Linked DNA regions of Homo sapiens. The protein of the gene in region 2 interacts with the protein of the main gene of each other region in a biochemical or structural test. Each region holds a gene or a part of one and is shown on either strand. Other genes may lie near its edges.

Region 1 (7,987 bases), on a different chromosome or scaffold from region 2:
GGGGAATGGTGGTACACTGCTGATGGGAATATAAAGTAGCACAGCCATGATGAAACACAGTATGGAGGTATCTTAAAAAACTAAAAAGAGAATTTTCATATGATCCAGTAATCTCATCGCTGGGTATATATCCAAAAAAAGAACATCAGTATATCAAAGATATATCTGAACTCCCATGTTTATTGCAGCCCTGTTCACAATAGTTAAAATACAGAATCACCTTATATGTCTATCAACAGATTAACAAAGAAAATATGGAGGCCGAGGCAGGAGGATTACTTGAGGTCAGGAGTTTGAAACTAACCTGGGCAACATAGCAAGACTCCATCTCTACAAAAAGTAAAAAAAGAAAAAAAAATTAGCTGAGCATGGTGGCACATGCTTATAGTCCTAGCTACCTGGGAGGCTGAGGCAGGAGGACTACTTCAGCCCAGGATTGCAGGCCTGCAGTGAGCTTTGATCACACCACTGCTCTCCAGTCTGGGCAACAGAGTGAGACCCTGTCTCTAAATTAATTACTTAACTAAAAATAAAAGAAAATGTGGTATACATACACAATGGAATATTATTCAGTCATAAAAAATGAAATCCTGTCATTTGCAACAGCATGGGTGGGACTGGAGGTCATTAGGTTAAATTAAATAAGCCAGGTACAGAAATAAAATATTGCATAATCTCACTCATATGTAGGAGCGGAAAAGGTGGATCTCATGGAGGAAGAGAGTAGAATGGTGGTTACCAGAGACTGGAAATGAAAGGATGGGGAGGGATAAAGAGAAGGTGGTTAATGTGTACAAAAATATAATTAGATACAAGCAATTAAGTTAATATTTAATAGTATAGCAGGGAAATTATGGTTAATAATTCATTGCATATTTTAAAATAGCTAGAAGAAAGAAATTGCAACGTTGCCAACACAAAGAAAAATGTTCGAGGTGACGGATATTCCAGTTACCCTGATTTGAACATTACACATTGTATACATGTATCAAATAGCATATGTATCCCCAAAATATATACAACTATGATATATCCAAAAAAGTAATTAATTACTTTTAAAAAAACTCTTCCTTATTTTCCAGCATACTTTGCCTCTGGTACTCTCTAGGCAGAAATACTAAGTGACACTCATAACTACTCCGGACAAGTATGCTCAGGCTTGGGCAATTTCTAAAATTAAGAATTAGGAAGTATGTTCCAGGCTCCCCTGGGTTGTCAAGTATAGCACTGCCTTATCTAGACCCTGCAGACCAAAACGCCTACCCAGGATCTGACTGTCCTGAGCAGTATCAAGCAGGAGTGACTCTATCAAGTACAGAGTCTAGGGAATGAAGGTGGCCAGAATCAGGCACTTCTGAACACCAAAGCAGAGACAAGTAAGAAGGGATGACGTGGGTGCAGAGCAGGAAGCACAATAGGCCAGTGCCCAAAAAGTGACTCATATTCCACAGGCAAAATTCCGACTTTGAGTCTTAAAAGAACAGCATCTTTATTATGCCTCCATCTTTTCTTGGTTTGGTTTGATAGCAGCGTGAAAATCTATAATAGTCAGATGGAAAATATTTCACAGTTGAAAACAAATTAAAATATTTCTTCCAGATGTAAATGTCCTCATATCAAAGAAGCTAGATGGTTCACCCAGACTAGATACAGCTAGATACAGAGATAAACATCAAGATAAAGATAGACCCACACCACTTTAAAGATTGAGATGCCTCATGTCTGTCAAGCCTCTCAACCATTAAGAAACATTGGCTTTCTGACTGCACCTCCAAGGAGTTCAAAGTCCAATTCTCTTTCTCTGCATGAGTTAACATGCAGATGACAAAACTGATTTCAGTTCCCCAAATCTCTAAGTGCTCCGAAGGAAGTTATCACCTTGGCCTATAATTTTGTTTTGACTGTAAATCATTCTTAATTACCATTTTTAAGGCCCCCTTTAAAAAAAAATCCAAGATACATAGCAAATTTCTGGGTTTCCTATGGTACAGATTGTAAAAGTTTCACTTCTACATGCATTTTATATGACAACAGTTGCAAACTATGAGGGTCTCATAAGACATCACTTTCTTTAGATACTACAAGGTATACTACAACTAAAGGCTAGAAATCTTTGAATTTTAAAAAGTGCTGAACTCTACAAGAGTTTGCTAGTGACAAAGTTGCATTTTATCACTATTAATTATTCCCCTTTTCCAAACTATTCATAATCTTCTCATCTAGGACATGCTCTGTATTGGGAAGATACTTGGAATAGTCAAGTCTAAACACTAATGAATTCATCTTGCCAATAACGAGACTAAAACCGAACCCATTTTTATCCTCCTTCTACCACCATCCATACTGTTGGTTTTATAAAGTTACTTCTTAAAGACACTCAGGGAACACATACTGGGGCTCTTCATCCCGTTTACATTGCGTAATGATTTAACAATATTCCCATCTTAAAATCACAGTCAGAGGTTCCTCAAGCCAAATTTTGGGAATAACCAAGAACTCTCGGCTATATTAACATTGCCAGTAAAACGTCTCCTTCCAAACAGAAGGGAGAATGAGTTGAAGTGAAAACAATGCCTTTACCTGCTGCACACTCGCGACTCTCATATAGGAGTCCAAGACGATCAACAGAGGCACATGGATATTTTTGCCTTGAAATAACTTGGAGGCTGGAAAACAAGTGGGTGGGGAAAAGAAGCAAAGTCACAATCCACAGCACCCCCTCTCCTTTTTAGTCTGAAACGGGGAGAAAAGTCAAAAAGGTGAAGACCTTCCTGAAATTCTCAGCTGCTTTCTGCCCTAAGGAAAGGATATGGGAGTTTGCGGCTCCTTAAGAGTCCGGGTTTGAGCAGGGTCAAGGGGAGGAGGACAAAATTTGCAAATGTAAGGAGGGGGAGAAAGTTTGCAAAAATAAAAGCACAGTTTATTTTCAAGTGATTACCGCGCTCGGAGTACGTGAACACCAGCAGATCCTCCAGGATTTGGACCAGCGTTTCTATCTGTTTTCCTTCCTGGACATTGTTCAGCCTGACTATCAACTTCTTCAGAGTTTCCTCGTCCTCTTCGCACCCCTGACAGCTGCCACTAGCCATGGTGGCACCTGCTTCCAACCCGCCGCCCTCCCAGCATGAACGTCCGCTGCTCAGGGAACCGGCAGGGGCGCCGGCCACAGCTCCCCGGGGGCGAGCTCAGCTCACCGCCCGCAGCCAGCGCTCCCCGCGGGCCCCATCGGCGCCCACGCCCGCCTGTTTATGAGGAAGGAGGCAGCTCCCCGCCCCGCGTTGCCCTCCCTCTCCGGAGCCCTCCTGCTCGGCTTCCTCCTCCCCCACTCAGGCCCCAAAAACGAGCTCAGGGGCCTGCCAGAGGCTCCGCCGAGGCGACGGGCCGCGCAGAACTCTGGCGGCGGCCGTGGGGCTGCTGGAGCCGGGCCTGGCTGGGATGACCGTGACCGTGGCCCCCACGCACGCCTAGACCGGACCCCGGGCGGACGCCGCCTCCTGGGACCAGATTCCACCGCAGCGGCGGCGCGGCCGGGAGTCGCGCGGGAAGAAACTGACTCAGCGGACTCCGCTGAGTCCACAGGCCCGGAGCCCCGCAGCGGAGGCGCGCAGTGCGCAGCCCGGCCGGCCACCCTCCGCGACCCGCCAGCCGGGGATCCTGCGGCCCCACGGAAGGTCTGGGAACTGGGAGCAGGAAAAATGAAAGCCGCCTATCTCCAGATCTAAGAATAGAAATCAGGGCGCTGGGAAAAGAGGACACCGCCCAGATGGCCCCTTTTAGGAATACATTGTCTTTAGAGTTCCACCTATAGGGAGATGAGCAATTTTCCCCCAAAGGATGGAAAGAGGGGTTAGCCATCAAAACTGCCCCCGCTACTCTTTTTTATGATTTTTTGTGACTGTTAGTGGGAGAGGAAATAAACATTGTTTCCCTGTGAGTTATCTGAAGCTCTGGTCACCAAAAGGCCACTAAATTAACTTTTGGAAATTTGAGTTGCACTAGGCAGGATCCTGATACTTGGGACACCCGAAAAGTAATCAGCTCTCAGAGCTATTAGAGCTGAGACAAAGGACAGGGTACATGAAATGAAAGGTGAAAAGTTGAGAGAAGCAAACCTAAATACTCTTCTCTTGGTATTCAGAAATACTTATGAGTATGGGTGTCTATAACCCCAAAGTTTTTTGGTTTTGTCTTTTGATTGTTTGTTTGTTTGTTCTGTTAAGTACCTAAGTAATGTGTTTTTAGGAAAAGAAACCTAGCAAGAACATTGTAGACAAGGCTAGGCAAAGATGATCTATCCTTCAGGTGATGTGTCTGTCCTCAAGATCACTTACAAAGAAGAGGATTGGACTGGAAGTTACTACTTCACAATTTTAGTTTTGTTTTCACATCTGTTACTTCAATCCTGATGACAATTCTGAAATGGATACAACTACTACTATGTATCCTTCTTTCACTAGTGAGGAAATTGAGATTTGGAATTGAGAAGTGAAGAGCTTTGCTGGAGTCACACAGGTGGGAAGTTGAGAGCCAGGACTTCAACCCAGCAAATCTCCTAACTCCAGGTAGAAGGTTCTTCATGCTCTACCACTTTAATAAGAATGCTCTAGACTTTGTTAATACATTAGATTAGTAAGATAGCAAACTCCTACTCAACCTGGATATTGGGTCTATGTCTTGTTGTTATAGAGTCTTTAACTTTTACAGAGACATGCTAAAATATTTATAGTTGAAATGGTTAGGATTTCTTTCAAAGTCATCCAGTGGTGGAGGAAAAGATGAAATGTGTGGAGATAGAGATAACGATAACAACTTTTGAATTGATAATTGTTGAAGATAATATGAGATGGGTTCATGTGGTCTGTTCTACTATTGTATCTATATAAAATTTTCCATAATTTAACAAAAAACTCCCAATCTTACAATATTTATCAGACCTACAGTGTATTATTTTCTAAGTTGTTTCTAAACTTGTTTCCATTTCTGATGACTTAATCAATGTCTCAAACATTTCTAGGCATTCTCCATCTCATGCATTCCTTCTGTTCCTCTGCATTAGTTTCTCCCTTCCTGTTCTACTGAATTACAACCTTGCAAGAAATTAAAACCTACCTCCCTTCCAAAGAAAAATAAATCTAAATTAAAAGATGTCTCCTAATTTCCACAATTCATTCATCCATCTATTGCCTATTTATTATCTACTCTATATTGGCCAGACTGTGAGTAGACAGTGTGAAAATATGAATTATTTGTTGGGAGCATTCTCCCATGAACTACTGCAGTGTTAAGGTAAAGTATTCTCTTAGTTTTCAAAAATGTTTAATTGATTGACTGAAATTCCAAGATTTATCAACTCTTCAAGTAGTTAACAAGACTGAAAATGAAGATTAAGGCATGAATTTATGATGGAAGCAGGGTTCAGTGGAGAATAAAATGGTGCTAGAACATTTGGCTAATTTCCTGAAAAGAAAAAAAATAAAACTGACATTACTAATTACAGCAAACATCAAATAGATTAAAAAGTTAAATAAAAATAACTTCAAAAATAAAATATAAATTAATAGTTATATAATCTTGAAAAAGGAAACATAAAAACAAAAAAGAAATCACATAAGGGTAGTATATGTGACTCCATCAAATTTAAATTTTCTGCAGTCAAAGAAAAAATACCCAATAATGAAACTAGAAGTCAAACGGCAAACAGGAAGAAAAAATTTGAAATACATATGATGAAATACAATTTGCCTTCAACTTTCAAAAGTTCTTACAAATCACTGGGAGGAGGGTATTACGCCACAGATAGACCAGGAAAAAAAATAATAAACTAAGGTTTTGAAAAGGAAATTCATTTTGAATGACCAATAAGTATTTTTTAATGTCATCATTATAAAAAAAATGTGTTCCTAAACATGAGTGATGCACAAGCATAAAGTGCAATTGTGTGTGTGTGTGTGTATGATGACAATGAAAGGGAAACCTTGAAAATAAATTAACAAATATTTACAAAACCTTTATGAATAAATTATTGAACTCTGTTAAAAGGCATTAAAAAGGCATGAATAAATATTAATATCACATTAATTAATGGGAAAACTAAATTCAAAAATATGTCAATTCTCTACAAAGTAATAAAAAACAATGCAAGATTAGTGAAATTCTCAACAAGATTTACATAGATTTCAGCAAGATCAAAAGGCCTAGTATAGACTAGACACTTTTGAAGAAGGACAAGATGGGAGAATTGCCATCTTGTCCTTTTGGATGTCCAATTGACATCCATTCAGAGTATGTAGTAGCCTTTCTCTATCAATTTCTGAAGAAGGAAAAAGTACCCCTAGGATGAAAGCGGGGAGCCCTGAAAGCACATAGTTTACCCAGCAGGCAGTCTTTCTATGAATTAGAAAAAAGTGCCTTTTAGGTAGGCACAGCCTTATATCTGGGTGTATCAAGCAGGATTTGGATTTCAGTCTCTACCCTGGTGTTCTTATGGAGGACACAACTTATACAGTATAGGAAGCATTATACTTTTTTGAAGCTATAGAAATTAATTGGCATGTTATTGACACAGCTATACAAAGTGACCAATGAGAGTATAGAAAACCCAGAAACACATCTTCACATATATGGAAATGATATATGAGAGATGTTGCATTATGTATCAGTGGAAAAAAAAAGGGCAATTTGATAAATGAATCTGAGACCACTGTTTGTGGAAAAAGCATCAAATGATTATGCCTACCTCACACCATATTCAAAAATAAATTCCACATGGATTGAACATTTTTGTATAAAAAATGAAAACAGGCCAGGTGCAGTGGCTCATGACTGTAATCCCAGCACTTTGGGAGGCCCAGGTGGGATGATCACTTGAGCTCAGGAGTTCGAGACCAGCCTGGCCAACATGGTGAAACCCCGTCTCCACTAAAAATACAAAAATTAGCCAGGTGTGGTGGCACGTGCATGTAATCCGAGCTACTGGGGAGACCGAGCCAGGAGAATTGCTTGAACCCAGGAGGCAGAGATTGCAGTGAGCCAAGATCGCACCATTGCACTCCAGCCTGAGTGAAGAAGTGAGACTGTCTCAAAAAAAAAAAAAAATTTGAAAAAAATATAGAAAACTATCTGACATTAAGAGGGAAAGAAACAAAACAAAAATTACAGTTAAGGCCAGGTATGGTGGCTCACACCTGTAATCCAAGCACTTTGGGAAGCCGAGGTGGGAGGCTTACTTGAGGCCAAGAGTTAAGACGATCCTGGGAAACATAGAGAGACCTTGTCTCTACAAAATATTTAAAAATTAGCCAGGTATGGTAGTGCATGCCAGTAGTCCTAACTTCTCAGGAAGCTTGAGGCAAGGGGATCACTTGATTCCAGGAGTTATAGGTTACACTGAGCTACAATTGTGACACTGCACTCCAGCTTGAGGGACAGAGCAAGGCCCTGTCTCTAAACTAAAAAAAAATAAAATAAAATCACAGTTCATATAGGAAAAAATTATTAAATTTACAGACATTAAAATCTAACACTATACAAAAGACTCCATCAACAAAGTTAAAAGATGACCATAGGCTGGAAGATTTTGGGAAAGCGTGTAACAATTAAAAATTAATAAGAAGAATATATAAAAGGTACTATCACAAATTATAAATGAAAAGATAAGTATCCTAGTTTTTATATATATAAGTTTAAAAAATATGGCCAGGCACGGTGGCTCATGCCTTAATACCAGCACTTTAGGAGGCCAAGGTGGGTGGATCACTTGAGGCCAGGAGTTTGAGACCAGCCTGACCAACATGGTGAAACCCTGTCTTACTAAAAATATAAAAATTAGCCAGTTGTGGTGGTGCATGCCTGTAATCACAGCTACTTGGGAGGTTGAGGCAGGAGAATTGCTTGAACCCAGGAGGTACAGGTTGCAGTGAGCCAAGATGGCACCACTGCACTCCAACCTGGGCCACAGGGCGAGAATATGTCTAAAAATATATATATT
Region 2 (8,067 bases):
ATTTTGGCGAAAGTTTTAACCCCAGGATCTGAGTTACACTGCAAAGCCAGTCCATTAGCCACCTTTAGGCAGGCATCAAAAAGGAGTATTTTGGGCCGGGTGTGGTGGCTCACGCCTGTAATCCCAGCACTTTGGGAAGCTGAGGTGGGCGGGTCGCTTGAGGTCAGGAGACCAGCCTGGCCAAAGTGGCGAAACCCCATCTCTACTAAAAATACAAAAATTGGCCAGGCGTGGTGGTGGCTGCCTGTAATTCCAGCTACTTGGGAGGCTGAGGCACGAGAATTGCTTGAACCTGGGAGGCGGAGGTTGCAGTGAGCCAAGATCACACCACTGCACTGCAGCCTGGGCGATGGAGTGAGACTCTGTCTCAAAAAATAAATAAATAAGAAGTACTTTGAAACTATCTGTTCTCTGATCTGAGACCTTGTCAAACAACTTTGTGCTTTCCAAAGATAGATTAAGACAAATTTTGGTGTGGTTGTCACCAAGTAATTCCAGAGGTGGAGGGTGGAAGGCTGTCTCCTCACTCAGCATTCTACCCTCCAGGCCTCACCTCGCGCTGGGCATACAGTCATGCTGGATACGGGATTGCGGGCGGCTGTGGCTCTGACACCCTGGGGTTGGAGCCCCCAGACAGCCGTCCCAGACAGCCACCCATCAGGGTACACGTCCAGTTACTTGAGTGGGGTTAGGCACAGCTGATTTTTTTTTTTCCCATCAGCATTGGCTCCTAGCCTACACTGTGGTCCTTTCAGACGACCCCACGGAGGAAAGGCGAGGTGGTCACGTTAGCCGGAGTAAGGCAGTTTGAAAGAAGCGTGGGTCTGAGCAGAATGGCAGTTAGAGTCAAAGATGGCTGATCTGAAGACTATGAGATGGATCGGTCATCCCCACCATAGTTTTGTTTGGGCAGCCAGTTACACATAAATCGAGGAACTAGGTCTTCATCTTGACCTCTGTGTGTCGTGTATATTCTAGTATGAGTATCGTTAAGACCATTCCTACTGTTGTCACTTTGGTATCCTCCAGGTGGGGTTCACCTTGCTTTGAGCTTGGCTTTTGGGTTCTTGTTTTTCTACCGGGGACTTTCTGTGCTTTCAGATGTTTGAGACCAGGAAGGGGGGAAGGCTGTGCTTCAGTGGAGTGCCTGTGGGCTAGAAGCGTGGTGTGGGCCTGCCTGCCCCGACCCTGCTGTGACAGTTGGAGGGCGGGTGCTCACTGCAGGGCCCTGCCAGGTTGTCGTGTTCCAAAATTGCCCCTTCAAAGGGGGCAGTATTTTGGGGCTATTTCTTGAATGCCCAGGCTTTGGAAAGTGGGACCCCAAAAAGAACAATCTGTCTTCAGTCTGAGATTGCCAGATCCGCAAGGCCCTTCAGGAGGGCAGGTTGGGAAGGTGACACAGCCCACACACACCTGTGGAGCGCACACCTTGGCAGCCTGTTGTGTGACCTGGCCCCGGCCCTGTGCCGCCCTCCGCATCCGTGTCCATGTGGTGTGGCCATAAACCAGAAGTTCTTTCACTTATGCTGGCAGAGTACCACTGGAAATAAACTTGGTAACATTTGAAAACAGCCAGTGTCCTTAATGTGGACCATGAGTTCCCAGCCCCAGAACCACAGGGGTGTCTGGCGGAAGAGGACTGTTCAGCTGGGCTAGGCTAGAGGGAGAGGCCTGCTGTGTTCACCCCGCAGGCGGCCCATGCAGAGAGGCAGTGAGAGCCCAGCTGGTCCTGCCTCTGTTCTCACCTGTAGTGTGTTCTGGAGGTTAGTGGCAGGACTGGATTACCTGGCTGGTGGGCTGGACAGATGAATCTGTTGGCATCTGTACTTGATCCCATCGCACCATCAGCTTGTCAGGGCCTCCATTTGTCCACCTGTTACCTGGATGGACTGACTTCATAATGTGCACAAGCATCTTTTGGGAGCTAACTGCTTCATCTCTGAAGCACACGTTTTTCCCCTCACTGACTGATTTCTCAAGAGGCAGCCTGCAGGGTGCCTGGTATGCAATAGGGCCCCAAGATGCTGACCAGCCATGAGAGGAGAGCGACCACCTGTTCTTCCTGTAGCTTCTGGGGTCTCCTCACTGCAGTGTTAGGGCTGTAGCCTCTGTTGACCTTGGACTCTCCTTAACTCAAGCATCTGTAATGAGAAGTCGTGGTACTGCTGACCGCTGCCCTGCGAGTTGACCTTTGTCCTGCTGCTCAAGGCGTCTCCCTGTTTTTTTTGTTGACAAGACAATCCTTAATGGGAGTTGCCAGCATCCAGGCTGGTAATTCAGAATTACCCTCCTGTGCCAGGACAGGGCCACACTCTGGTTAGGTTCGCTTAACTCACCATCTGCTTTTTTTTTTTTTTTTTTTTTTTAAGACAAAGTATCATTCTGTTGCCTAGGCTGGGGTGCAGTGGCGCGATCTCAGCTCACTGCAACCCCTGCCTTCTGGGTTCAAGCAGTTCTTCCGCATCAACCTCCTGAGTAGCTGGGGTTAGAGGCGCACACCAGCATGCCTGGCTAATTTTTTTTGTATTTATAGTAGGGACGGGGTTTCACCATGTGGGCCAGGCTGGTCTCGAATGCCTGACCTCAAGCGATCCATCAGCCTCAGCCTCCCAAAGTGCTGGGATTACAGGCGTGAACCACCACACCCGGCCACCATCTGCTTTTGGCTGCTGAACTTGAGGGACGTAATTTTGTTTTTGTAGGACTAACATTAACTGATACCCAAACACGGACTGAGGAAAGCCCTGTCTCACAGCAGACCAGGATTGTTGAGCTGCAGGGAAGAGTTGAATTTGTTTTGTTGACAGAATGTCTTTTGTATAAACAGACAACCCAGACAACCTGGTGATCTGCGTGTCACCAGGTTTTGGTTTGTTTTGAATCTGACACCCAGGGCTCAGGGTCTTTCAAATTCTCATTCCCCTTCTAGTAGTGCTTCTCGGATTTAACCTGTGGTGAAGAACCAGGCTTGTAATTTTCAACCTGTTGCATGCCAAAACTTGTGTATAAGGTCAAAATGCTGCAGCGATGCCAGATTGCAGCCACAGTTACTGAGCGCCTCTGTGCTGCCTTGTGCACTGATGGCAGCTTGAGGATCTGACTTTCAGCAGCATGGCTGGTAGAGTGTGGGGGTGCCCCCGGTGGGCGAGGTGGGACAGGGCTGCAGGCCAGGGGGTCTGAGCAGTGCTCAGCGACCTTGAGGCAGGTGGTGCCTTTGGAATGCACAGACCTTGGTGTTCTGCTTCTTGATGCTTCTGCCCAGCAGGTGACGAGGTCCCTGCTGCAGGCCCCAGAGAGTTGCCATCCTCACATCTGTGTACAGGACCTGCATCCAGCTACTCCCCTGTAGAGACTCGGGGCGACCTTGGTGTCGGTTCCACAGGAGGGCTGGCTCTGTGTGCTTGCACATCTGTGTGCTTGCACAGCGAGAGGTCCCGGCCCCATGATAGGGTGTGATTCGTGTTGTGTGCCAGAGCGGCTGGTGATGACTTTTGCCCCACGACAGTCAGTGCTGCAGGTGTGACTGGCAGACATTAGCTTTATCAGCTACAGAGAAGTGGAGTGAGAGATGCTAGTCAGCAGACTGTGTGGCCCCAAGCCATCGGCCCCAGGCCATGGGGTCACTGGGCTGCCAGCTGGCGAGGGTGGCGGTACTGTCCGAGGCTGCACTGCGCCTGCTTGGGGGTGCAGGGAGCTGCTGACATAACTAGTGGGATGAGTCACCCTCCCTCCCGGCTGGCGAGTTGAGTTCAGAGTCCAGGTCCTTAGAGGAACTCAGAGTGGTTTTTCATTTACACAGTACATTTTTCGATGAAGTCATTTCTCTTGTAATTGGATAGACTGTCCCAACTGTAGGCAGGAAGAACAAAATTTGTTACCTCGAGTACTCTGAAGAGTCTCTGTTGATAGTAAGTGACGTTCTTAAATCTAGAATGGTCACTGGCGGTGACCCGGTGGTGGCGATTCCTGTGGAACGCAGCAGTGGCAAGGGGTTTGGGGCCCAGGCTGGAAGTGGCACATCTCATGCCGCCATCTGGGCAGACGAGGGGCTTCCTGGGTGTTCAGTGGACGTGTGGATATCAGCAGACTGCTCTAGTGCTCACTTGACCTTACTCTGCTTTTCATCAGGGAACCTTATCTTAAAGAGCAGTAAAAGAAACTGTTAACCCATTCATCTCCACAACTCTCATGAAACAGACGTCAGACCTCACCACTGATCTCCATTGACAAGAGAAACCGAGTCACTAAGAACTAGCCAAGTTGCTTTGCCCAGCACCACAGTCTCTCAGGGAAGGAAGTCTCCCAGGGCTTTGTCTGGGCTGCTGAAGCTAGTGTGAATTCTTTTCCACATAGCCACGCTGTTGGGAAGGATCCAGTGTCCTTTTTTTTTTTTTTTTTTTTTTGAGACGGTGTCTCGCTCTGTCACCCAGGCTGGAGTGCAGTGGCGCGATCTCGGCTCACTGCAAGCTCCGCCTCCCAGGTTCACGCCATTCTCCTGCCTCAGGCTCCCAAGTAGCTGGGACCACAGGTACCCACCACCATGCCCAGCTAATTTTTTGTATTTTTAGTAGAGATGGGGTTTCACCGTGTTAGCCAGGATGGTCTCAATCTCCTGACCTTGTGATCCGCCCGCCTTGGCCTCCCAAAGTGCTGGGATTACAGGCGTGAGCCACCGCGCCCGGCCGATTCCAGTGTCTTATACTCTGAAGGGACTCGTGAGGGAAGAGGAGAGAGCTGGGTATGTACTGTGTGCAGCTTCTTTTTCTCTCCTGTTCGGTTAAAGCTCCTTGGATGCCTCATGCAGTGGATTTGGGGAAGGCTTTGGGCCAGATTCAAACTCAGGAGCATTTGTGGGTGAACCTGAGAGGGATGGTGGTTGTCACATTTGTCATTTATTGGAGTAAAGCAGAGATGGAACATTTCTAGATAAAAAGTGTAATTTTGCCTCCAAACTCATAGTCCGATCGTCATGGTATTAGATGTGTCATTGGTTTTAGCCATAGACTGATGAAAGATGTGTGACCGGTGCGTGTTGGTAGGTGGTACATTTAGGGCGTTGAAAACAGGCGATTCTTCTGGCTTTGTGTCCCCAGGAAGGGAGAAGGGCCTCCCTCCGCCTGGTGGAGGGTGTTTGCCTGCAATAGGTTGGCTAGAGATGACTCCCGCTGCCTGTGATGCCAGGCCTGGGTGGACTGGGACTGTGGCTATTGGGTAAAAACCTAGCCCTTCCTCAGGGGGAAACTCAAACCACCCCCTCGGAGGCCTATCAGGCAGCATGGAGAAAAGGGAATGGCACCGTGGAGCTCTACCACAGGCTGTCTGGGGCGGGCAAGTGCAGGGGCCTTGGGCAGGGCTGATGGGAGGATGCAGACCAGAAGGGCCACTGTGGAGAGGGAGCTGCAGCACCTGAAGACTGGTGGGCGGGTGATGGAAGCCACATAAACTTTCTGTGCAGTTCAAATTCGTCCTGTTGTGAAAATGGGAATATGGATAACTTCCCCCAGAGATGTGTCAGCCGATTAGCCCGCCTTACTATGCTAGGAAGGAGAACACATCCCTCACTTGGTCCTTCATGGAAAACACATAGTGCTTGTTGTTTCTCCAGCATGTTGGGTTATTTGGTGGATACCAGGTAATTCCTGTTGTGGTTTTCTTTCTTTGCCAAGGTACGGACATTGCTGCAGGAGAAGAGGTTGCCATCAAGCTTGAATGTGTCAAAACCAAACACCCTCAGCTCCACATTGAGAGCAAAATCTACAAGATGATGCAGGGAGGAGGTAGGTCTTTACCAGTCACAGAGCAACACCAGGGTTCTGTTTGACAAGGGAGAACAGCAACTCAGCATTGCTGGTTAAAATAAACCCAAAACTGGTTCTGGGCAAAAGGGAGGGAAGTGTTCTCCACACCCTGACAAAGCAGTCACAGCTTCCTTCAGAGAGTCTTGGGTCCAGAGACCCTCCCTCAACACAAAGAAACATCTTATGGGCCGGGCATGGTGGCTCACGCCTGGAATCCCAGCACTTTGGGAGGCCAAGATGGGTGGATCATTTGAGGTCAGTAGTTTGAGACTAGCCTGGCCAACGTAGTGAAACCCCGTCTCTACTAAAAATACAAAAATTAGCCAAGTGTGATGGCGTGCACCTGTAATCCCAGCTGTTTGGGAGGCTGAGGCAGGAGAATCGCCTGAGTCTGGGAGGCAGAGGTTGCGGTGAGCCGAGATCACGCCACTGCACTCCAGCCTGGGCGACAGAGTGAGACCCTGTCCCCCCCAAAAAAAAAAAAAATCTTATACCATCTTGTCCTTTTGTTTAAATTTTGCTTCATATTGGGTCATGGTTTCTGAAATCAAGAGTGTGTGTGAATAGGCCAGACGCAGTGGCTCACACCTGTAATCCCAGCACTTTGGGAGGCCGAGGCAGGCGGATCACGAGGTCAGGAGCTCGAGACCATCCTGGCTAACACAGTGAAACCCCGTCTCTACTAAAAATACAAAAAAAGTTAGCCGTTCGTGGTGGCGGGCGCCTGTAGTCCCAGCTACTTGGGAGGCTGAGGCAGGAGAATGGCGTGAACCCGGGAGGCAGAGCTTGCAGTGAGCCCAGATAGCGCCACTGCAGTCCAGCCTGGATGAAAGAGCGAGACTCCGTCTCAAAAAAAAAAAAAAAAAAGATTTTGTGTGAATTTCAATGCATGCTCCCCGTGGTGTCGTGTGCCCCTCAGTGGTCACTGGAGCTGTTGCCAGTGGCACGTGTGTTGCTCAGTGGGGCCTTCCTGATGTGTGATCCCTGAGTGAGGCCTCTGCTCCTTCGCATGCTTTGCTTATAGCTTGGGGGAAGTCCCTTCATACTCTCTGGGCTCGTTTTCTCCGAGCAAAACAAGGGTTTTGAACTTGGCGACCATCATGACCTCTTCCAGCTCAGTTACTGTCCCAGTTCTGCGAGCCCTCAGCCCAGGGCCTTAGGTACCTGGTGTTCCACGGTGGGCCAGGTGTGGAGCAGAGCGCTCCTGTCCTCCCCTCAGAGTCCAGCTCTTGCGAGTTCCCTGGACTTTCAAACAGTTGGGCTGATGGAGCAGGAGGGTATTCTCTGCGGGGATTTCAGAGCCATGAAGCGTGTGTCTCAACAGCAGAGCTTCGGTCTGGCAGGAGCCCTCTTTGGGAACAGAGCTTTTTGTCTGAAGAGTGGCTGTGCCACGTCTGTGGAGCCCTCCCAGTGAGAAGGCTCCGCGGCACATTTGTAGGTGGATGGTTGGGTGAGTCCCCTTGGGCAACTGGCCAAAGGAAAACCTGTTCAGGGCCTCTGTTAGCCCTTTTGTCACGGGAAAGGGAGGACTGTTGATTTGATTCTTTGACATCTTTTCTCAGCACAAGCACGTAATCTGTGCTACTACAAGAAACCGACGTTTCTAAGTTTATGTGACACAAAATATCTTTGGCAGCACCTGTGGTCCTGGGGAACCCGTTACAGAGAGGGGCACCCAGTGTGTCCCATCACGGGCCTCACGTGACCAGAGGAGGCCACAGGAATGAAAAATCCCATCACCAACCCAGGGAAAGCTCAGCAGAGACTCCGCCCTGGGAGCCTGTCTGGCGGCCCTTGGTGGTGGACTGGCTTCTCAAGGGCCTGGAGCCTGCATTGCCTTGAAGGTGTGACGAGCCAATAGAGCAGGGTGGTGCGGGGTGTGGCCTTGGCCTGCGGGAGCCTGGTGCTGGGGTCAAGTAAAACCTGCAAGCTTAAAAACACCTTAAGTTTTTACGAGAGATGTCTCCAGGAGAACTTGCAAGCCAGGGGTACACAAGGGCAAAGGGAAGAAAGCCAGTCCTTAGAAGCCCGGGATGGTCACTGGGGAAGCCAACCCTGAACCAAAAAGTGCTACGTGGTTCCGGACAGGACTTCTCCACTCGGCACTAGTGCCATTTGTAGTGGTGCGTTCTCTGCATGGTAGATGTTGGCAGCACCCCTGCCCCTAGTTGTGATACTCAAAACTTTCTTCAGACAGTGCTGAAGGCCCCTGGCAGGCAAAGTTGCTTCCCCTGTGGCCGCTGGCTTAAGAGAGTAAAGAAGCCTGCAC
Region 3 (8,067 bases), about 36 Mb from region 2:
TTACACCCACCCCCACCACACATGTGCTTTCTGATTAAAGTCTCAAATCAAACTAATATTAACACTATCTGGTGAATCCTAATCTGGCCAATGTTAACTCTTTTGTTTGTTTGTTTGTTTGTTTGTTTTAGAGACAGGGTCTCCCTCTGTTGCCCTGGCTGGAGTGCAGTGGTGCCATCACGGCTCACTGCAGCCTCCACCCTTTGGGTTCAAGTGATCCTCCCACCTCTGCCTGGCCAATTAAATTTTTTTTTTGAGATGGGGTCTTGCTATGTTGCCCAGGCTGGTCTAGAACTCTTGGGCTGGGGACATCCTCCCACCTTAGCCTCCCAAAGTGCTGGGATTACAGGCATGAGCCACTGTGCCAAGCCTCCAATGTTATCTCTTTTTCTTTTTTTTTCAGTTTGTCAGTGTAAACAACACTGCTTACTTTTGAACCCATTCCACAAGAGGAAGCAGCCAGGGACGGGTGTCTGCACGCCTGTCCCTATGGAGGCGGGGCTGGGGGGGGCCCTGGAACCAGGATGCAGGATAGATGGTGACTGACACCCACAGTTCGTCCTGCCCGTGGGGGATTTTGACGGGTGGGCATGGCCCTGGAGGAGAAGGGGGTGTTTGGAGGGGAACAGGTCACACTCTCGGGAAACAAAGTGGGGAGGCTAAGCCTCGAAGTGTTTCCAAGAGCAAGTCAGAGCTCAGAGAAGGGTCCTGTCCCAGACTTCACTGGGCTTCTAGGGGATGCTATCTTATTGCTTTCCAATTCCCCATGGAAGCGGCCAAGGCCCTCTGTGTGGTCAGGCTTGGTAAGGAGGACCCAGGAGATGAAGTAGCAATGGGAGAGGAGGGACACAGGCTGGGGCCCTGGGGCTGATGACAAGAAAGCAAAGCTGGGGTGGGGGTATTGACGACTCCTCCTTCCCTCGCTGCACACGGCCCCTCTCCACCAGCAGCACTCCCCAGCTGGCCGAGGCCCAGGGTAATAGATCTTTCCCCTCCCTAGACTCTGGGCAACTCCAGGGCAGGGATGTTGTACCCATGTGTACTGAATGAATGAATGAAGGAAGGAACAAATGAATGCATGCATGCATGAGGCTGGTATTCCCTGCCCCCTGCCCCCAGCACTAAATGTGCACCGTGATTGACAAGCAGCTGTCACTATCACTTCAGAGACCCAGGCCAGCTCTCCAAATCCCCACAGGCCCTTCCACTGCCTCACTAGATGAGGCTGGGGAGCCCTGACTCTGCAGGCACTTCCGGGAGCAGCCCTCAACACACCACTGAATGCTCAGAGCTATGTGGCAACTGGAGATGCCCTCCGGGCTCCAGTACTGATTAAAATTCAGGTGTTTCAGACAGAATTTATGCTGGAAATTTTAGATACCTTTAAGAAAAATAGGTCTTATCTAGAGCCATGGTGGGATTTTCCAGGAAAAACGCCACTGTGCAATTACGGGAGCATTTCCCCAGACATTTCCCCAGTCATTGAGACAGTAAACAATGGGTGAAGTGAAATACTGAGAAGGATGGGCGAAGATCTGGGTGCAGTTTATGCAGTGAGAAGATGGCTTCATTTACTGTCCTAGGGCTGGTTTTCAAACACACCTTCATTTACTGTCCTGGGTTTGGTTTTCAAACACACCTTCATTTACTGTCAGGGTCTCACTGAAAGTACACTAAGAAAGCTGGAATTAGGAGCATGACTTCATGAACCTGCCAACTGCTCTTCCCTGGGGTAAGTATCAAAACTAATAAATGCTGGACTTTTTAAAAGCCTGCCCCAAAATACAAAGCACTTTAAATGACAGCTGTACTTTAGTGACAAATACTCCCCACATTATATATGAGAATGAATCAGACATAAAGCACAGCTTCTCTGTAAACTTGACCAGCTGCAGAGCTCCGTGGCATCGTCAGCTTACCTTGGCTTTTTTGTCATCGCTTCCAGTCCCGTCTTTGCTTTTACTGACCATGCGAGCTGATAAAATATAAAATAAGAATGCTTGTCACACTCCATTTTCACTGTTCACAGAAAGCCAGCTGTGGTGAAGCTGGATTTCTCTGGGATAGGTCCATGTTTGTTTAGTTGGGTCTGGTGGAAACCCAGTTGGTTCTCTTTTCCCTTGAATCTGCTAGGCCTCGCATTGTTAGTATCAACACAGCACACTGGGGTCACTGATTAGCGCAACCTGGCAAGAGGGGGCAGCAGGCTGGCCGAGGGTGGGACCATGCAGAGGGGACGCAGCAGAAACTGTCACGGGGACATGATGGCATGGAGGCTATCTAAGGAAGGTGCAGTCTCCCTAACCCACAGGCTCCTGCCCTGTTTCTGCCAGGGTCAGCCTCACCCCACTGGGACCAGCCCCACTCCATGGATGGGTGTTTTAAAAGCCTCAGGGCCATGGATGTTGGTAGCTCAGTGAGGACCCAGCCTCCTGCAAGATCCAAGGATGGGGGTGGGTGCATTGTCTCCACACTGCAGCCAGGCTTGGCCCTGATTCCCTGTGAGGTGCCTGCTCACCCTCTTGGCCTTGGAAACTGCCTGGAACCACCCGGCTCCCCTGCCCATGTGGCTAGATTGCCAGCAGTCCTGATTTCCACCTTCCTGGCCATCTTATGCTGACCAACCCATCTCCATTTCTGGTCACACGCCTCCAGAATAGGAGAGGCTGGCAGGGTTGTCTTTGTCCCCTAGTTGCTGGTTGTACCCCCAGGGCCTGCCCCTCACTAATGGTGGCTTTGGCCACCAGCCCCAGCTGCTCTGAGACGAGCCAAGCCCAGCCCAGCCCTGAGCCAGGCCTGGTGGGTTTCTTGCCACTTACTGGTCTTCAAAGGGCACGAATTCTCACTGCTTCCCCAAATTAGCTACAAACCAGTTACCATCATACATTCCCACAGACAACATCAGCCTTCATCACACTCCTTGGTGAAACCAACCCGCTGACCTGTCAGCCAGCATCAGCGCTAACTCACCCTTCTCCTTCTCTTGACAGTCACTGCTGAAAACTGATCATAGATTTTCTTCTTTGGTTTCAATATCACATTCCCTCTACCCCATGGACAACTGGGTCTCTTGGAGCTTCTCATTGGCTATTGTCACCTGGATTTCTAGAGGGACCAGCAATGAGTATGCCCAGAGGTTTTCCAACTATACTATGTGGCAGAATCACCTGCTAAAAGACTCCCAGGCTTACCCCACAACTGGGTCTGTAAGCCTAAAGTGGCACCTGGGAACCTGCACTTTAGTAAGAGCCCCAGGCGGATCTGACTCACGTGTTCTTTGTTTTGCCCACATCAACCAGCACCATCCACGGCACAACAAAAGAATCTGCTAAATCGGCATTTCCCAAACTTCCTCCAGGAAATGTTAGCAGGTAGAATCAAGTAAGTTTGGGAAACCCACTCTGTGACCTTCTCAGAGGGTCACAATGGCCATTAGTACATTAAAGGCTCTGACAAGTCCTGCAGCAGAAAAGCCTGTTTAACTTACTTTAGTCTTTTATTTTTTTCCCCCAGTCACTGGGCCATGGAACTCTTTTTTAATCCAAACACACCTATGAACCTCTAGTAGGCCAGTATTCAAGAAAACATCATTTCAGGAAATATTGTAGTAACCTGTCAAGTCAGTTATTTGTCCCCTACTGTTTTGGAATTTAACAAAGGATATAGGATATATTTTTTTCTCTCTTAACTTTATTTTATTTTATTTTTTGAGACAGAGTCTCACTCTGTCGCCCAGGCTTAGGGTACAGTGGTGTGATCTTGGCTCACTGTAACCTCTGCCTCCTGGGTTCAAGCACTTATCCTGCTTCAGCCTCCCCAGTAGCTGGGACTACAGGTGCCCGCCACCACGCCCAGCTAATTTTTTGTAATTTTAGTAGAGACAGGGTCTCACCATGTTGGCCAGGCTGGTCTCGAACTCCTAACCTCAAATGATCCACCTGCCTTGGCCTCCCAAAGTGCTGAGATTACAGGCGTGAGCCATCGCCCCCAGCCTCTGTCTTAACTTTTAAACACAGGCTTCTTTATAGCATTTCAAAGTTTTCCCTAAAAGTAAAATCTAATAAAAATTTAACAGATGCTTGCAACTGTGAGCTTCAGTAACATCCATTTCTGGGCTCTGCAAATAACTGTGAAATGCTAAGGGTCCCAAATTTATGAACAAGCTCGCCTTGTGGCTCTGAGGTCTCCTGTGGGACACCAACTCTCCTCTCCCTGATACTTGGGACTCTCCTCCCACCAATCCCTCCCTGCAGGGCTGCTGTGGTCGTGCTCCTGAGGGCTCAAGGTGGGCCCTGCTCAACCCCCTCCAATGCCAGCATGAGGATCCCCTTGTCCTCTGCAGAGGGAGGTGGTGGCATGTGGACCAGGGAGATCTTGTGTCTGCTCCTTGTCTTCCTGCCACAAGGCAGAGTGGGTGGGGGCAGGGCACTGGGCCAAAGGCACAGCATGAGCTCTGGGCCACCTCTGGATGCTGTGTGTGTCACCTGCTGTGTGTGCCCTGCACATCTCTGTGTTAGGCGTCCACACTCCAGCACCTCCTGGGAGGCGTTGTGGGATGCAGGACAGGCGTGTCTTTCAGAGACAACCTACCTGGATCCCAAACCTGGCTCTGTCACTTACTACTCATTGGCCTTCGGCAAGTTACTGTACTTCTCTGAGCCTCCGTTTCCTCATCTGCAAAGTGGGGCTGCTTATGCCTACATGGGAGGGTTGGAGAGTTCTAGACACCATGAGGGCACCCGTCATCCTGTCGGTGGAAGGCACCCACCAAACCTCCTGTGGGCTGATGGGCCGTTGTGGACAAATCAAGTGGCCAGAGAGTCAAACAAGGTGGGTAGCACGGAGCGGGGGTGCTGGTGACATGCAGAGTGGCGGGCAAGCGTGAGGGGCGCGTGCGGCCACAGCCTGAGCACGGGAGGAGGCCGAGGGAGTGGAGCAGCTGCACCCAGGTGTCGATTTAGTGGCGTCCTAGGAACGTCAGAAGCAGCAGGAGTCGGGAGGCCTGGAAGCTCAGTGGCAGTGCCCGCAGCCTGGGAGGCCTGGGAGGTCCCCAGGGAAGGAGCGAAGAAGCTCAAGACACAGACCTTTGAGTTGAGGGACCCGGCTGACGGGCTTCCCCCGCGGAGCAGCAGCAGGCTGCTTTTCAGAGGGCTCTGGAAGGTCAGCCTCTTTTGTGTCCTCTCCCAAAGAGGGGCCCCGGGCCTCTGGCCCCTCTCCAGGGGCCCCTGGAAATGCAGCCCTTCCCAAATGCTCCTCCGAGTGCGCCTGCTCCTTCTGCACGTTGGGTGTGATTTCCACGTGAAACGTGAACTCCAGGGGGGCATCCTGCCCTTTGGCCCGCCCTACACTGGGCCCGTCGGGCTCTGAGGCTGGGATCTCTGTGGAAACTTTGGAGAGGAAATCCACAGGGAGGGGGATGGCACCCTCCGCTGGGAAGCCTGGGATGCTGGTGGCTTCTCTGGCGGCTGTCTGGGGAGGCCGCCCATCTTGGGCTGGGGAGGCCTTGGAGGGAGGGGAGTCTTGGGGGGAGGACTCATCGACGTCGCGGTCTTCATCCACCTCCTCCTTGCTCCCCGGCCTCTCTTTGCCCCCTGCCCCCTTCAGCGGCGGCCCCTCCTGGTGCAGGTCTCCTAGAAGCTGGTGCTTGAGCAGCTCAGGGGCGTGGCGGCCGCCCTCTGTGTCCTCAGGTCCTGTCCCCGAAGGTTGGCGTGTGGCCTCTCTGGGGCCCTCAGGCAGGAGGGGAGCCCCAGGCATGCCGGACATGAGCTGGTGGCTCAGACCTGGGGGGCCTGGCTCTCGGAGGAAGCCTTCCTGGACCACCTTACCACTTTCAGGCTCTGTGTGGAGATACGCAGTGGTGGCGGGCTTCGGAAAGGCCGGACCCTTCTCGGCCCAGTCCCCGCCTTTTTGTCCCCACTCCAGGGAGGGCTCCTGAGGGCCTCCTGTTGGAGGAGGCGCTGGGCAAACGGGACGGTGCTGAGGAAGGCTCGCGGTCAGCGGGACGGGAGCTTCTGGCTCTTTCTCCCCGAGGCACGGCCCAGAGACCCCAGAGGCCTCTCCGCAGGGTCCAGGCTGGACGTGGGCGCTAATCTCATTGGCCAGGGGCCTTTCAGGCGCCTTCCTCTGCCGGCCCGGAACTCTCAACTCCTCTGGTTTGAAGAGGCAGCGATAGCAAAAGGTTAGCAAGGGCGCATTAATCGCTTAAGAGAGGGAGCATCATCCTGGACAAAATGACACTGAGAGGGCATCCCAGGCCCCCTAACAAAGAGATGGGAGCACAGCTCTGGGCTCGTCTCGTTGCCTTTGCTTGCTTGGAATGACAGCTCTCCTGGTCTAGCCGCCACCAGCTCGCTAGGTGGCTCTCCCCTCTCTGGGCCTCAGTTTCCTCATCTGTAAAGAGGGTTCTTGGACGTGGTGACCTCCGAGGGCCCTTCTGGTGTGGGTGTTATTCCTCTGCCTATGATGGGCTCTGGTTGGGCACAGAGCATGTCACACATCTGGAGCCGCCCTGGGCTTAATCTACTGGGAAAGCGGGAGGGCTACAGAAGCTTCTCCTGCTTTCTAGGGAATTTGAGCCTCCCAAAGATTCTAGCCTCTAGATGGTATCTGGTTTGGGTGTAGCGAGAATCCCCTTTCCTCTCCCTACCTCTCACTGTTCTCCTGCCCCCGCCCCCCACCCCTTTTTTTTGGTTTGAGACAGAGTCTCACTCTGTCGCCCAGGCTGGAGTACAGTGGCACGATCTCAGCTCACTGCAACCTCTGACTCCCTGGTTCAAGCGATTCTCCTGCCTCAGCCTCCCGAGTAACTGGGATTACAGGCACGTGCCACCACACCTGGCTAATTTTTGTATTTTTAGTAGAAACGGGGTTTCACCATGTTGGCCAGGATAGTCTTGATCTCCTGACCTCGTGATCTGCCCACCCCGGTCCCCAAAGTGCTGGGATTACAGGCATGAGTTTTTTTTTTCCTTTCTTTCTTTCTTTTTTTTTTTTTTTGAGACAGGGTCTCGTTCTGTCACCCAGGCTAGAGTGCAGTGGTGCAATCACAGCTCATTGCAACTTTAACTCCAGGGCTCAAACAACCCTCCCATCTCACCCTCCCAAGCAGCTGGGACCACAGATGCATGCCACCACGTCTGACTAAAATGTTATTTTTCATTTTTGTGGAGACGGGGTCTCCTTATGTTGCTCAGGCTGGTCTCGAACTCCTGGGCTCAAGCAATTCTCTTGCCTCTGGGATTACAGGGATGAGCCACCATACTTGACTTCTGCTCCCCTTTTTGGTAAATGAAACCAGTGAAACTAGTGCCCACAAACCCCGCCTCAAGCCCATTCTCTGACAGATTTGGAAAATCCAAAATGTGTGATCATCAAGAATGGAGTCTTTACTGAGAGACCTGCCATAAGACTCCTCGAAAAAGAAGCCCCATTCAGATCTATCCAGGTCACTGACCACAGACAAGCCCTTGGCACAGGTGAGGTAGGCCCCCGTGGGAGGAAGGGCTCTGCACGGCAGACAGTGACGGCCCTCAGGACCACTGCTGTCCCCTGGTCACACAGCTTGCTGCACACCAACCCAGCTGATCAAGGGCACACTTCATTTTTTTCTGGTTCATTCACGTGACATTCATTAACCTGGCCGCATATTAAGAACAGGAGAATTACACTCCTTGGTTCTCCTAATAAATACCCTTTATGTTTTTTAACTCCCAACTCTTTGAACACCCCATCTAGTCCCAATGCAACAACCTATGCAACTCACCAGCTCTGCTTTAAACAAAACCTGCAGCCCTGAAGGATTCAGGGGCTTGGAAAAGAAAGAGATTTGGATGAGGTCGGGGAGGAAGGTGTGGTCATGGACACACAAAGGTAACCTGTGGGCCCGACCCCATCGGAGGCAAGGTGGTTGACATGGGCTCATCCCCAAGAGGCCCGGTCAGAGCGCAGCAGCACCTCCAGCCTGTGATACTGGCCATGCTCATGGGCCCCTCCAATTCCTGTTCCTGGCATCGACCACAGTGCATGCCACACAGCAGGTGGTTAAATCAATGGATCCTGCACAGATCA
Region 4 (8,067 bases), on a different chromosome or scaffold from region 2:
ATATATTAGAAGGGATGGAGATATACAAAATTCCCATTAGAATAGCAAATAGTAATAATTACTGTAGACAAGATTTACTGATGAATTCTAAAACTGGTGGGCAAAACTTTAAAGAGAAAAGAATATATCTGCATAGCCTCCAAGTACTTCTTCTAAAATACACCTAATTACTGTGGTGGTTTTAACATATGACCACAAATTTCTTTCATATTCTCCCTTTTAGGAGGTGGAATTTAATTCTCCTCCCCTTGAATATGGGCTGGACAAAGAGAAAAATGGTAGCTCAACAGTGGAGACACCTGGACAGCACTTTAACCAAGTGATCAAAGTTAATATCGCCAATTATGTATGTGCTCCCGGATGTGATGTTATGAGAAAGGCACACTATACCTCTGTGGAATTCCTCCCCAAAACCTATTATCTCAATCTATCCATAGAAAACACTGGACAAATGCAAACTGAGGGATATTCTAAAAGAAAACAGATCACTACTCTTCAAAAGTTACAAGGCCATCAAAGACAAGGAAACAAACTTTCACAGACTGAAGGAGACTATAATTAAATGCGATATGGTACCCAAACTGGATTATGTAAGTAAAAAAACTGGGGAAATAAAATGTATAATTCAGTTAATGGTATTATACCAATGTACTTTTATTTTTGATAAATGTACCCTGGTTATGTAATATACTAAGATTAGAGAAAGCTGGATGAAGGGTATCCGGAACTCTGTATTTTTAAAACTCCTTTGTAAGTTTAAAATTACTTAAAAATATATTAAAAATGTATATTTACCTTTGTACTGGTTTGAGTAAAAAAACTGACTTTAGAATGTTAACATTTTAGATGGTGAAATTAGAAGTAATTCAATTTTTAGGTAATGTTTCTTAATTTACTTATAATGAACATGTTTTACTTGTGTAATAATAAATTTAAAAAACCTGATAGTAATGTAAATACTCTTTGGTAACCTGCTTTTGTCCGAGAACATCTTCCCATCTTAATAAAAATACACCTTTATTTACTCTTAATGGCTAGTTGTATATAGTTGAATGGATATATTTTAATTCATATCAAATACATTTTAATTTTTTTAGAATTTTTCAAATTTTTTACCCTATCCATTTTCTAAGAATCTGCCTATTTATATCCCTCAACTCATTAGTCTTCTGACATTATTTGTTAAAATGTTTGCTACTTTATCTTTTACTTTCCTAAATAGGGGGTTTATAGTTTTATATGGTCAAATCCATTTAACCTTTTCCTTTGTTACTTCTGCCTTTAGGGAATCTGCTTTTAAAATCCCCCTACAATGTAAAGTTACATAAAGGCAAAGGTGATAGATTGTATTACTTTCACAATTTTTCACTCTCCACTTCCTGTAGGAAGAGTTCATTCCCACTCCACTGACTTTGGGCTTGTCCTTGCCTGTGCTGTGGCTAACAGATCACGAGTAGATGTAACGTTCACCAAAATCAAGCAAATGCTTTCAAAAGCATTGCCCTTTTCTCAAAGACGTGCTGCTCTATCTAGCCCAGGATCCTAGACCCAGATGGGCACATGAAGGAGAGCCACAGCAACTGACCTGCAGCTGCCAAAATGTAACAGAAGTGAGGAAGAAATTTTAAGACACTGAGATTCGTGGTTGTTACTGTAGCAACACAAATTAACAGAAGAGCTGTCTACACTTTCTTTTAGAATGTTTACCACTTACCTTCATCTTGAAATAAATGGCAATTTGGATAGTGATGAATTTTTTGGATTACAATCTTTTCCTATCAAACTTTAAGATAGGCTGTGTTTGATGTGCATAAGGGAAATTCATCCTAGTGAGCATGCTTAGGAGTGTGCTTCTCTTAACTTTTCCACTGAAATAGCCACACTAGAAGAGGAAACCAAATATGGAGACTCTGGGGGTGCAGCAAAACCACTGCTGGTATAAATTTCTTTTAAAACTCTTATTTTACCTTAAAAATAAGGTTTATTTCTCTCAAATATTTTAGCAAAATGAACATTCAAGGAAAGCACTCCACGTTCACCTCCTTAGGCTACACATCCCTAGCATACTGCCATGTGCTCTGGTTTGAGAGGCACAGCAGAAGATGGCTGCATACTGGAATCAGTGAAGTAGCATGTTTACAGGTTTTGGTGCCAGATATGGGTTCAAATTTCAGTTCTACTAATCTCATAAAGTGTGTGACCTTTGGCAAAATATTTGAATTTTCTGATATTTACCTTCTCCTCCTCTAAAGTGGGGATAAGCTTCTACCTCACTGTAGGTAGAATTAATAAAATAATATATACTGGAGCTTAATAAATAGCACTCGGCAGAAAGGTCAAAGCCAGAATATACAGAATTAAGAAGTATCAGCATATAAAGTAATGCCTGAAATACATGGGTATGGATGAAGGTTCAAAGGAAAAATTTGAAAAGTAGCCAGAAAACCAGGTGAAGTAAGCCAAGGAAGAGTTTAGAGTAATGAGAAGTCGAAAGTGTCAAATACTCCATAGAGTTAAAATTAAATGAAAGAAAATACTAGATTTGCCAAGTGGGAGGGAATTTGTACCTTTTTATAGACATATGAGCGGTATGCTAGTCATAGAAGCCAGATTCCAGTGAATGGAGGCTGAAAAAGTAAAAGCAGCAGTAATCTGGTAACAAAGGGGAAAAGGAACTATGGCAGAATCAATGAGAAGTTTCCTTTTTAAAGAGTAGGGTAACTATATCTAAGCAAAGTAATGTTATGAAAGAGTCCATGGTAAGTCGGGTAGTTTCCCTGAAGATCTCAGGCAAGCAAAGCCTGGTAGGAACTGTAGTTATGTGTGCCCTGTTCCTAACTTGTTGGTGGCAGTGGTCATAAATCTGAAAGAAAAATAAATAGAACAAAAAGGAAATTTGGTCTGCCAGTCAACGGGGGTAAACATTTTGTTCCACACAGCCAAACTACATAGACATAAACAGAAGTCCTTCTGTTGTTTTTTATAATCAAAAGGATTTATTTTTTGATTCTGCTCCTATGTTTGCTTTGAACTCTTTTCTTTAGTAAGCAGTGTTGTCTTAAATATTACTACTCAGCCTGTGCTTGAGACTTCTTGATCAGACTTGCTTCTAATTTTAAGTTAAAGGTTTCCTTATAAACATTTTTAAAAACTGAAAATATTTTAATTTTTATTTACAGATTTTAATTTATATTTTAAAATATATTTGAATTATGAATGCAGCTTTTATGCTTCTCTTTAGTAAAACTTAAATACTCAAAATCACAGATGGATGGAGCACAAATAAAAGTCACTTGAGGGCTGGGCACCATGGCTCATACCTGTAATCCCAGCACTTTGGAAGTCCGAGGAGGGTGGATCACAAGGTCAAGAGTTCGAGACCAGCCTGGCCAAAATAGTGAAATCATGTCTCTACTAATACAAAAATTAGCCAGGCGTGGTGGTGGGCACCTGTAATCCCAGCTACTCGGGAGGTTGAGGCAGGAGAATTGCTTGAACCCAGGAGGTGGAGGCTGCAGTGAGCTGAGATTGCACCATTGCACTCCTGCCTGGGTGACAGAGCAAGACTTCATCTCGGGAGAAAAAAAAAAAGTCACTTGGCTTGTTTCCAACTCTTTTTCTAATATCCCAGAAAAATCTCTGCCATTTCTCAGAGTTTAGATATAATTTACTAACATTGTGACAGCTAAGAATATTTTAGGAACAAAAAAGCTGATCTGAGCTGTGAAATTGCACACACACACACAAACCCATTTCAACAGAGCACTACAGTTACAAAGTGCTTTCAAAGGATTCTCTTACTTGACTCTTACAACAATACTTTGGGTGTGTGCTGGAATCCCATTTTACAAAACTGAGGTACAGAAGGTTAATACCTTCTCCCAAAATGGAGGGATAGGGCTAGGACTTGGAAGCCCTGCTTCTTTCACTTTATCAGTGTTTGAAGTATCCTGGGATGAACAGTGAGATACTTTCACTAATTTCAAACTTTTTAAACCTTTACATAACCTTATTTTCATTTTCTTTTGTTTGTCTCGGTCACTTCTATATGAAAGTTCTAAACCAATATTTAGTAACTTATTTTTATTGTTTTTGACGGCAAAATCATTTACAGCAATAAAGTTACTTTCTGAGAATTGCTTTACCAACATTTCACAGATTTTGAATGTAGTATTTTTTTGAAGACTATATTTTAAGATTTTTGTCCGTAACATGGTATTCTTAGAATTAACATATTTTTGAAGAATCTTTAGGTGTTAAAATGTTATTATTTTGAGTAAAGATATTATTCATTAAAACATGAACTGGCCACCATACATTTACTTTATATCAAGTAAATTTAATATAGATAAAATTTAACACACAGTTAATATACATATATGAAACTCTTGATCTTCTTGAACAATACTATACATGAAAAGAAACCATTTTTAAATAACCTGGCTAACTGGTTGGAGTGCAGACATAGGGAAGTTGTGCATTAAATCTCCTGTGGGGAAACTGCATGAAAGAAAACTACTCCACGATCAAAGATTGACCCATAATCATACAGCTATCTTATAAGTGCAGCTTATTAAATAAAGAAAATTTAGCAAGATCCATTAATTCTGCTGGAAAAAAAAAATTCAATGCAAAGATCCTATTACCAGTAGATGTAAAGATACACATCCAGCAGAATGTGAAGACACACTTAACACATAACAATCTAAGTAAATGCAGTATTTGTACCTGTTCTTCATTAGACGGACCTCTCTCTTTCGTGCTGCTTCTTCAGCAGGCTGTGTAGGAAGTGCTGGGGAGGATGCCATAACAACTCCAGGGGCAATAGTGCTAGTGGGTGCTGTGCGAATCTGGTATGTTTGTACGTCTCCAGAGGCAGCTGAAAAAAACAGTGAGCATGGTGTAAGACAGAAACATTGCAACTTGATTCAATTATGTGTATCAATCATCAATCTAAGCATGTATTTTGGACTAAAAGGGAAACAAAAAAGAAAAGATGATTCTGGCTAAAGCGTTGAAAGAATCAGCACTCTTCGCGCCACTACTAAGAAATAATTCCCAATGTAATGTATTTATTACAGTAACCTATGTCCGCTGGATCTTACATTTTATTTTTCATTTGAATGCAGTTCTATTCTGTTGTTAACATGCTTACCAACCTTAAGTCTAAAAGGTAAGTGGGGCACAGCTTGGATGATCTTCCTAGATAGAGTATAGTCCTCAGTGTCTTCCTTTGATATTGGTAAATTCATATTAAAAAATTTCAAGTAGACTCTTGCCACGACATAAAAACGACCATGATTTTTCATAAAATAGCAAAATGAAAAAGAAGATAAAGCATTATGGTCAACTATTATAAATTTTGAATTAAAACAAAACTAAAAGTATGAAAAAGTGTATCACTTGATGCCAATTATATTATTTGAAAAACATATTGTTTTAATGTAAATGATAATGGCTAAATAAACTGAAGTTTTATTTTTCTAACTGATTCACCATTTGTAAAAACAAACACAATCACTATTTGTCAAACTGCTTCTAAAAACAGCGTAATAATATGCTCTCCTAATAAGGAACCTAATGTTACTTAAAAAAATTTGAAGGTCTTTATAAAATTATTCATATTAATTATTAATATCAATTAAAATGTATGGTTTGAGTGGAAAAGATTTATATACTAAACATGTTACCATCTTCAAACTGACGTTCAGAATTCAAATTCACTGACATCCTGCTTTACAATTTTTGAGTACCTGCATGTAAAGTGAAAAGGTGTTTTACTCTCATCAATAAGCAAAATAGTATCTTTTTCAAATACTCGTTTAATAACAGAATATATTCTGTAAACATTAGGGCTCTTTAAATAAGTTATGACTCTCTCCAGTTGGTGTTTCAGGATTATTCAATTATCCATGGTGAAAGGATACAACTGTCATTACCTAACACAGGCAAAATGCATTATTATTTATAAAAATATTTTCAGAAACAAATTTATTATTATTTCCTCAATCAGCAAATTTCTAACCTGGCATTAACTATATTCTTGAAATATTCAAACAAATCCAAAGAAAAATGGTTAACTGCTATCCATAAAGATTCCTGAAATAAACAGAAAAAAAAAACTAAAAAAAAAAAAAAAAAAGCCAAAAAAAGCAACTTCTATAATTTGTCGAGAATTTAACAACTACTTTTTCTCTAAAGAGCAGCAGATTTGCATATTGGTATAAGATCCTGTGGAATATAATGTTTTCATTTGAAACAAAAACTGAGTCAAGTGCAGAGGCATCCCAACACTTTGGGAGCCTGAGAAAGGAGGATTGCTTGAGGCCCGGAGTTCAAGACTAGCCTGGGCAACACAGTGAGACCATGTCTCTAGAAAAAAATAATAATAATAATAATAAAAACTGATGATCTCAGAAGATTTAAATTTCTTTTGGGGGGGGGGGGGGAAGCAGAGAAACAGAATCCTGAACTTCTGAAGATTGTTTCCAGAGATTCAGTGCAACTCTTATTTTACAGATGAAAAAACAAAAACAACAACAACAAAAAACAAAACACTTTCCTGAGGCTCAGAGCAGCTGACTTTTACTCAAGGCCTCATAGCAGATCCATGCAGTTAGATACAGAATCCATCTTTTCTAACTCCTGATTTCCTGGTCTTTCCTTCTAACCTATCCTGTTTCTTCTACCCCAAAAGATGTTAAAGGTAGATGCAATATTTTAAAAACTGAAAATAGTTGTTTTTATGCCATGACATTTTGGTCCAATTGGAATAATGGAAGAGTTCATGAAAAATACTATCAATATTGAAGAAATGTTAACTACATTTGAATGGTGGTTTGCAATATGATACTTACTTTTTCTGTGAGTTTATAAAATTTTAGTATTTTGAAGAATTTACCACACCTGTGAATTCTGAATTCCCTTACCTTGAACAACAACTTGGTTGCTGGGCACTAAGATCTGCTGTCCATCAGTGGTCTGTGCATACTGTAGAATGGTAGTACCCGGCTGAGTGGCTGCTGCATTGGTCATGGTTAATGTTTGCAGGCCCTGTACCCCATCGGTACCATTGTTAGCCAGCTGTATTGCTCCTCCCTGGGTAATGGCAACTAAAAGCCAATGGATTTTATTGTTACAAGTTTAATACCATATAAGACTTTTAAAACATTACATCCAATGTAGAATAATTTGTAAAATAATCTAGGAGAAGTTACAGCAAATAACATCACCAAGAAGGGTCTAATATATTCAAGTAACTTGCTCCTCAGGAAACCCATATTCAACTTCTACAATAGAAATGCACTCTATGAACTGCATTCTAATTTATAATAATAATGCCTGTTAACAATTTTTTTAAGTGGAAAAATGTTAAATTCCTTCTGAAGTTATTTGGTTCTGAAGAGGTTCCACTCTGTGATCCTTTCTTTTATTTTAGCATTAACTGCATAATGTATTAATACTTGTCCCACTAGTAAATAAATTTCTGGAGAGTAGGAATTTTCTTATATACTTTCATACACTTAGCACAGTGGCAGCCATGAAATAGGCACCCAATAAATGGTTGTTTTAACATATAACTAATAAAGCAGTTCATCAGTGCATTGTATTCCCTAACTCTTGTAGAAATTCTTTAATGGTATCTAATCCACTCAATGAAACAACTGAAATATCCTATGGAACTTAATTATCAACAGTCTCTCATGGAATTTTAAAATCAGAGCTCAAGATCATCATTTAGAAAAAAAACTTTAACTGTCATTTCTAAATTATTTAATACATATCCAAGCATTCTCATATAGAACCCTTTGTTGTTTATGCCCTAATTAGCCACACCTGTCATTCATTTGTTAAACAATAAATCAGTCAACTTTTGCTCATACTAGTAGATATTTCACTTTATGAAAAACTAAATCACCTTTATGCTACAGTACATAGAAAAATTTAATTTAAAAATTAGATGATTTATTTGGAAGAAGCATTTTTAGATAGGTGGCAATATCCTCTCTAGACAATTCTCCCTGTAGGGGTCAAGCTTTTCAGAAAGAGAAGGACCAAAAATCACAA

Evidence for each region.
Region 1: of the proteins of CSNK1D (region 2) and LRRK2, one has a biochemical effect on the other in vitro, tested with the Homo sapiens proteins (one study listed by IntAct).
Region 3: of the proteins of CSNK1D (region 2) and MAPT, one has a biochemical effect on the other in vitro, tested with the Homo sapiens proteins (4 studies listed by BioGRID).
Region 4: of the proteins of CSNK1D (region 2) and CREB1, one has a biochemical effect on the other in vitro, tested with the Homo sapiens proteins (one study listed by BioGRID).

Annotation. Positions count from the first base shown.
Region 1 is NC_000012.12:40,220,234-40,228,220, reverse strand, and holds the start of LRRK2 (leucine-rich repeat serine/threonine-protein kinase 2), read right to left. Parts: upstream 3,225-7,987; 5' UTR 3,090-3,224; coding exon 2,939-3,089; intron 2,667-2,938; coding exon 2,581-2,666; intron 1-2,580. UniProt on the Homo sapiens protein: Serine/threonine-protein kinase which phosphorylates a broad range of proteins involved in multiple processes such as neuronal plasticity, innate immunity, autophagy, and vesicle trafficking.
Region 2 is NC_000017.11:82,263,396-82,271,462, reverse strand, and holds part of CSNK1D (casein kinase I isoform delta), read left to right. Parts: exon of another isoform or gene 1-4,738; intron 4,739-5,666; coding exon 5,667-5,777; intron 5,778-8,067. UniProt on the Homo sapiens protein: Essential serine/threonine-protein kinase that regulates diverse cellular growth and survival processes including Wnt signaling, DNA repair and circadian rhythms. It can phosphorylate a large number of proteins.
Region 3 is NC_000017.11:45,980,948-45,989,014, reverse strand, and holds part of MAPT (microtubule-associated protein tau), read right to left. Parts: intron 6,150-8,067; coding exon 5,085-6,149; intron 1,976-5,084; coding exon 1,920-1,975; intron 1-1,919. UniProt on the Homo sapiens protein: Promotes microtubule assembly and stability, and might be involved in the establishment and maintenance of neuronal polarity.
Region 4 is NC_000002.12:207,574,317-207,582,383, reverse strand, and holds part of CREB1 (cyclic AMP-responsive element-binding protein 1), read right to left. Parts: intron 7,113-8,067; coding exon 6,930-7,112; intron 5,754-6,929; coding exon of another isoform or gene 5,737-5,753; exon of another isoform or gene 5,731-5,736; coding exon of another isoform or gene 5,691-5,730; exon of another isoform or gene 5,459-5,690; intron 5,275-5,458; exon of another isoform or gene 5,160-5,274; intron 4,880-5,159; coding exon 4,729-4,879; intron 2,864-4,728; coding exon of another isoform or gene 2,818-2,863; exon of another isoform or gene 563-2,817; coding exon of another isoform or gene 438-562; exon of another isoform or gene 238-437; coding exon of another isoform or gene 224-237; exon of another isoform or gene 1-223.